Linked DNA regions of Homo sapiens: region 1 is linked to region 2. The links come from fine-mapping of genetic effects on gene expression. A gene starts in region 2. The other region holds a variant in brackets. All regions are shown on one strand. Distances are from middle to middle.

Region 1 (2,901 bases), 29 kb after region 2:
TCTGGCTTCTCTTGCCCAATGAGATTTATCTATGTTGTTGAGCATAAAATACTCTTCTCAGTCTCAGAGCTATATTTTGTGACTATATCACAATTTATTCATTCCACTGTTGATAGAAATTTGGGTTGTTTCCAGCTTTGACTATTACAAATTGTGCATGTCTTTGGGACACATATGTATGCCTTTCTGCTGAGAATATGTATTTAAGAATGGAGTTGTTAGGCCATACGGTATGCCTATGTTTAACTTTAGAGGCTACTGCTGAACAGTTTTCAGGTTATTTTACCGGGGGTTAATTTTTTTTAACAGCACAGGCTGAAACTTCAGGTGATGTTTTTAGAACTACTTATATTGGTGGTGAAAGGCAACATCTCAACCTATTTCTCAGGCTGCAAATACTTGCCATGTCGACTCTAAAAGAGGTCCAGAAATGCTGCCCATGGAGCCTCTTCTGAACCCTATTCTTTTTTTTTTTTTTTTTGAGACGGAGTCTCACTCTGTTGCCCAGGCTGGAGTGCAGTGGCACAATCTTGGCTCACTGCAACCTCCGCCTCCCAGGTTCAAAGTGATTCTCCTGCCCCAGCCTCCCAAGTAGCTGGGATTACAGGCGTGCACCACCACACCCGGCTAATTTTTGTATTTTTAGTAGAGATGGGGTTTCACCATGTTGGCGAGGCTGGTATGGAACTCCTGACCTCAGGTGATCGGATTACAGGCGTGAGCCACCACGCCCGTCCTTTCTGAGCCCTATTCTTAATCTGCACATCAACTCTGCTGAGCTCTGGCTTATTGAGAGTGTGTGGGGCCTGCAGAGCACATGCAATACCAGGTCCTTTGCCCGAAAGGCAACACTGTCCTCAGTGGGGCCCGCAATTTCACAACCCAAATCAGAACATGGAGTCTGACAGCTAAGCAGGATATTTGAAGCTGGGACTATCCTAGGAAGCCAGTTTTTCTCTCTCTCTTTTTTTTTTTTGTTTTTGTTTTTGTTTGTTGAGACAGGGTCTCACTCTATAGCCCAGGCTGGGGTGCAGTGGCGAAATCTCGGCTCACTGCAGCCTCTGCCTTCTGGGCTCAACTGATCTTCTTGCCTCAGCCTCCCAAATAGTTAGGACTGGTCAAGTTGCTCTTGAACTCCGGGACTCAAGCCAGCCTTAGCCTCCTAAGGTACTGGGATTACAGGCATGAGCCACCTTACCTGGCCAGAAAGCCTATTTTTCTTTTTTTTCTTTTTCTTTTTTTTTTTGAGATGAAGTCTCACTTTGTCACCCAGGCTGGAGTGCAACGGCATGATCTTGGCTCACTGCAACCTCCGCCTCCTGGGTTCAAGCAATTCTGCTGTCTCAGCCTCCCAAGTAGCTGGGATTACAGGTGTGCGCCACCACACCTGGCTAATTTTTTTGTAGAGACGGGGTTTCGCCATATTTCCCAGGCTGGTCTTGAACTCCTGGATTCAAGCGATCTGCCCGCCTAGGCCTCCCAAAGTGCTGGGATTCCAGGCATGAGCCACCTCGCCTGGTCGGGAAGCCTATTTTTCTAATAATGGATGAGAACAGTGAGGCTCCAATATGATGCTAACGTTATCACATGGTACTGTAAATATAACCAGTGCTTGGGTAAGCATAGGCACAGAGAAAACAACAACAACATAACCCAGCCCGCCCTGCGACTGAACAGACCTCTCTACTTGTGCCAA[A/T]TTCCTTCCACCTATGTAACTGACTTAGCTCAGAACTGCTGGGGGATTGGCAGGCTGTTTTCAGAGAGAGGCAGGGAAAATCCCCATCTGGTCCCTTTCTGAGATGCTTCTAATTCATGGGACCTCATGTCAGTCTCCCTGGCCTAGGTCTTCAGCCCCTAGAAGGGATGGAGCTGATTGCGTCTCTAGTAGAAACTCGCCTCTGTATTTTCCTTGGGAAAGAGAGTGGCTCCCTTAAGGTTTGGGTAATTATTTCCATCAGTTTGAAGGACTGGACATTAAGGGCAAGAATCATGGGGCCGGGCGCGGTGGCTCACGCCTGTAATCCCAGGACTTTGGGAGGCCGAGGCGGGTGGATCACAAGGTCAGGAGATCAAGACCATCCTGGCTAACACGGCGAAACCCCATCTCTACTAAAAATACAAAAAATTAGCCAGGCGTGGTGGCAGGTGCCTGTAGTCCCAGCTACTCGGGAGGCTGAGGCAGGAGAATGGTGTGAACCCGGAAGACGGAGCTTGCAGTGAGCCGAGATGGTACCACGGCACTCCAGTCTGGGCGACAGAGCGAGACTCTGTCTCAAGAAAAAAAAAAAAAAAAATCATGGTTAGTTTGCTATTCACCGGTGCGAGCAATGAAGTTCAACCAGTACCCATGGCCCCCTTGGGTTCTGGATCATTGTTGTGAGGGACTGGTCTCCCTGGAGACTGTCTTTGAGGAGTCCTGGGCCAAGAATGGGTGGGGGCTCTCAGCTTGAGTATTACCATGATGCCAGGAAATAGTTATTTATTTCTTTTTTTCTGGGCCTGTGCTTACCCAGGAAATATTTCATAATAGACCCAGGTTAGTTTCTTCAGCTCCACATAGCCAACAAGTGTACTTGGCTAGATATCCCCATCAACCATTGCCCCAGCCATATGATCAGGTTGTTTGCAGGCTGAACCTCCCCAGACTGGCTTCCATGGGCTTATTCCTGAGCTTTGGTGAGGTTGGGGAATGGTACCAGAGTTCCTTCATCCAGACACCTGGTCTCTAGATTGCTGCTGAATAGCCCTGGCCATTGGTCAGTTGACCCTCCGTCTTCTCTTTTGTATAGTGGGAAGATAGCGGGGGACTTGCCTTACCCTGGGGCTCTGAAGAACTACTGGACCAGAGAGAAGACCCTCTGGTGATTTCATTATGGACATTCCCAAGGAGTTGGCTCTAGG
Region 2 (2,901 bases):
TACCACCCATGGTGCAGGGCCCTAGGCAGAGGGCTGGGGACTGCGGATCCGTCCCTGAAGCGGGACGCGAACCGGCAGAGTTGGGAGAAGGTAAACAAGGGCCACGCCCCCTGCCGTCGCCCCGCGGGCGCGCACCCGCCGCTCCGGCCGCCGCCGGTACATTTCCACTCTCCCAGCGCCTCTCCCCAGCTGGACTACCGCGCGGCCCCGGAGGTGGAGGCTGCCCCCGACCCCAGTCCTCACCCCTGGCGCCGAGGCTCCGCACCCTCCACACTCACCTGGAAAGGGTGTCCCCCGCCCCTCCAAAAAAACTGTCTAATTTGTGCAGAGCCTCCAACCCCAGGAGCCGAGCATGCTGCCCCCGCGTGCAGCGCCCGCGTGCACCGGGCCGGGAGAGGGGGCGACAGGGCGGAGGCGGTGGCCCCCGGAAGGTGTCTGGGACCGGACCGGCTGCACGTGAGCCCAGCGCGAGGTCATGTGCACCGGCTCAGCCCGGTTCGGCGCCCGGACGTGCTGCGTATCAACAAAATGAAACTCGGGGAGACAGGAGGGCAGATAGCTCCAGGTTCTCGGAGCCCCCGCCCGGGCCGCTCGACCTCCCCACCGTACCCATCTCCCGCCGCAGCCCCTACGCCCGGCCGGAGCCCGCGGGGAAGTTGCAGCCCTGGCGCGCCCCCGCCCGCCCGCGCCCCCTCGCCGGCCCGGGGGCGCTTTGCCGCAGTCATTAATAAAGAAGGTCGCCAAGCTCACCCTTCCAAAAGTTGTTGTTGCATGCGCCCCTCTCAGCCTCCCCGCACTGTACTCTTTAAAACACGACTGACCAACATGCGCAATCTCTCTCCCCTGTGCTGTGCATCCCCCCCCTCTCCGCGCTGGCTTCCTAGAACAGGCAGCCAGCAGGAGAGAGAGGGAGCGAGCGAGCAAGAGAGAGCGAGGGAGCGAAGAGCGCTGGCAGATCTGTTGCAAAAACGCCAAATAACGTCGTGGAGATGCGCAGGGCCCATCCGCCGGGGGCTGGATCTTACCTTGCTCCGCGGTGCCCCCCTGACGGGCGCTGCCCTCGGCTACGCGCCGCTGCAGGGACCGGCGCGGGAAGGATGCTCCCGAAGCCGGGAGCTCCTGGGGCCGGCGCGGGAGGGCGGGGGGCGCGCATCCATCCGGGGTCGCGGCGAGGGAGGCGGCCGGGCCCGCGGCGTCCCAGGCCCCACGCCCCCCGCCGGGGACGGTCGGCCCGCAGGACCTAAGCCGGTGCCGCTAGGAGTGGGCGCAAAGTAACTCCATGGACGCTACTCACCCCCCCCAAAAAATAGCCTCCAACTGCGATGGCCGCGGTCGGCACCATTCACCAACCCCCTGTGTATGTTTCTGTTTCTTTTTAAACCAAGACTTCCTTGTGATCTCTTTAGAAAAAAAAAATGTGTTGGGGTGGGGGTGGGGTGGGGGCGGGCAGGAGGAGCGAGGGAGGGGGAGTAGCCACTTTTTTCTTATTCACTCGGATCTCCGCTCCCGACACCCCCGTCGCCGCCCCCCCAACCCCCCGCCCAGTTGTTTGGCTCCGGCGGGGAGTCCAGGTAGCGTTGCGGGCCCCGTGGGGGAAGGGTGCCCTCCCTCGCAGCCCCACCACCACGCCTGCTGGCACCCTGGGCCCGGACTCCCCATGGACTCTGGGGCGCCCCTAGCCCGCCCTGTCCCCAGGGCCGGGCCCGAGCGGCGGCTGCGCCCGTGCAAGTCCCATCAGGTCTGCTCACACTTCACACACTCACACACATACCCCGCCCCTCCACTCTTTCACTCACACTTTCTGCTCACACCCCGCCCCCTACGCGCCCCAGACCCGGGCGGCGCCCCCCGCAACCTTAAAAAAAAAAAAAAGCGAGCTTATACTTAAAAAAATCTTTTGGCGCCATATTAATGACGTACTTAAAATTTGCCATTTCTCCCTGCGTCAAAAAGACGTTTCTTTGCAAATAACAGCCTGGAGGCGACACTCGCGGAGGGAACGAGGTTTGCACTGAGCACCCCGCCCCCCGGGGCTCCAGCGCTGGAAGACCCTCGCCCTAGGCCCTGCTTCTGAATCGCTGGTTTTAAAATGCGAATCGAATAAATTGCGTGGCGTTTTGCAGCACCAGAAGTGAGCAGAAAGTGCTGGCAGGAGGGGAGTGGAGGGGCGAACGCGAGTCTTGGGGAGGGGGCGCGGCCCTCCTCCCCGCACCCACTCCAAATGGAAAACTAACATTCCGGGCGGGGGAACTTGAAATTGTAGGCGACCTCAAGAAAAGAGGGGCGGTCCGTAGAGAGGGTCCCCATTGGGCTCGTCGCCCCCTCCCCCCTCCCGGGTGCCTCCTGGCGCCTAGCGCTGCCCCGCATTTCCGGGGGGTGGAGAAGGCAGTGATGAGCGGGTGGGTGGGTGGTTGCACATCCTGGCCCCAGCAGGATTTTGCCCCGGGGCGACCCCTTCCTCCTTGCTCTTCCTTCCCATTACCCCGAAAGGGTTAAAAACCGAGGGGTAACTTCCAAAGGCTGGCACATGGCGAGGAAGCGGGGCGCCCCTCTCCCCACCCTTCGCCTCCTCGCCCCTCCTCCTCCGGCTCCACTTCCCGACTTGACCTTGTGGTGCACAAACAGTACGCTCGGATCCTCGCAGTTTCTGGAAGAAGAGCCTGCGCTCGCCAGGCGGGCGGGCTGTCGGGCTGCTAGCCGGCGGTGGCGGGGCCTTGGGTCTGTTCCCGGAGCCGCGGGCCACACCCACCCAACCCGCTGCGCCCGCCGAGCTCACCTTCTCTCGAGGAAGGAGAAGGACTGGCCTCCTGGTTGGGGAGGAATCGGGGGTCAAGCTCCAACCTCCTCGGAATGCCTCTAGCTGGGGAGGGGGTGGGTCTGGCCTCGGGAGGAGGTTGTGGG

Direction of the effects. Alleles are on the strand shown, and positions count from the first base shown. SD is a standard deviation of normalised expression in the study named.
As copies of T replace A in region 1, the expression in cerebellar hemisphere of the gene that starts at base 1,367 in region 2 goes down (small effect, 0.19 SD a copy in GTEx).

Evidence for each region.
Region 1: its variant is fine-mapped to the expression of JADE2 in cerebellar hemisphere (GTEx, PIP 0.95).

What each region holds. Positions count from the first base shown.
Region 1 is chr5:134,495,181-134,498,081 of GRCh38, reverse strand. No RefSeq gene overlaps it. Among named protein-coding and RNA genes, the nearest start is that of LINC01843, 9.9 kb to the left of the region's middle. The variant A/T (reference allele first, on the strand shown) is at 1,697.
Region 2 is chr5:134,524,136-134,527,036 of GRCh38, reverse strand. It overlaps JADE2 (jade family PHD finger 2), which reads right to left and starts at 1,367. Exons shown (of 12, transcript NM_001388185.1): 1 at 1,026-1,367. It overlaps LOC124901070 (a long non-coding RNA gene), which reads left to right and starts at 1,435. Exons shown (of 3, transcript XR_007058942.1): 1 at 1,435-1,571; 2 at 1,954-2,131. RefSeq lists silencers at 1-897, 908-1,167, 1,198-1,277, 1,408-1,627, 1,648-1,697 and 1 more.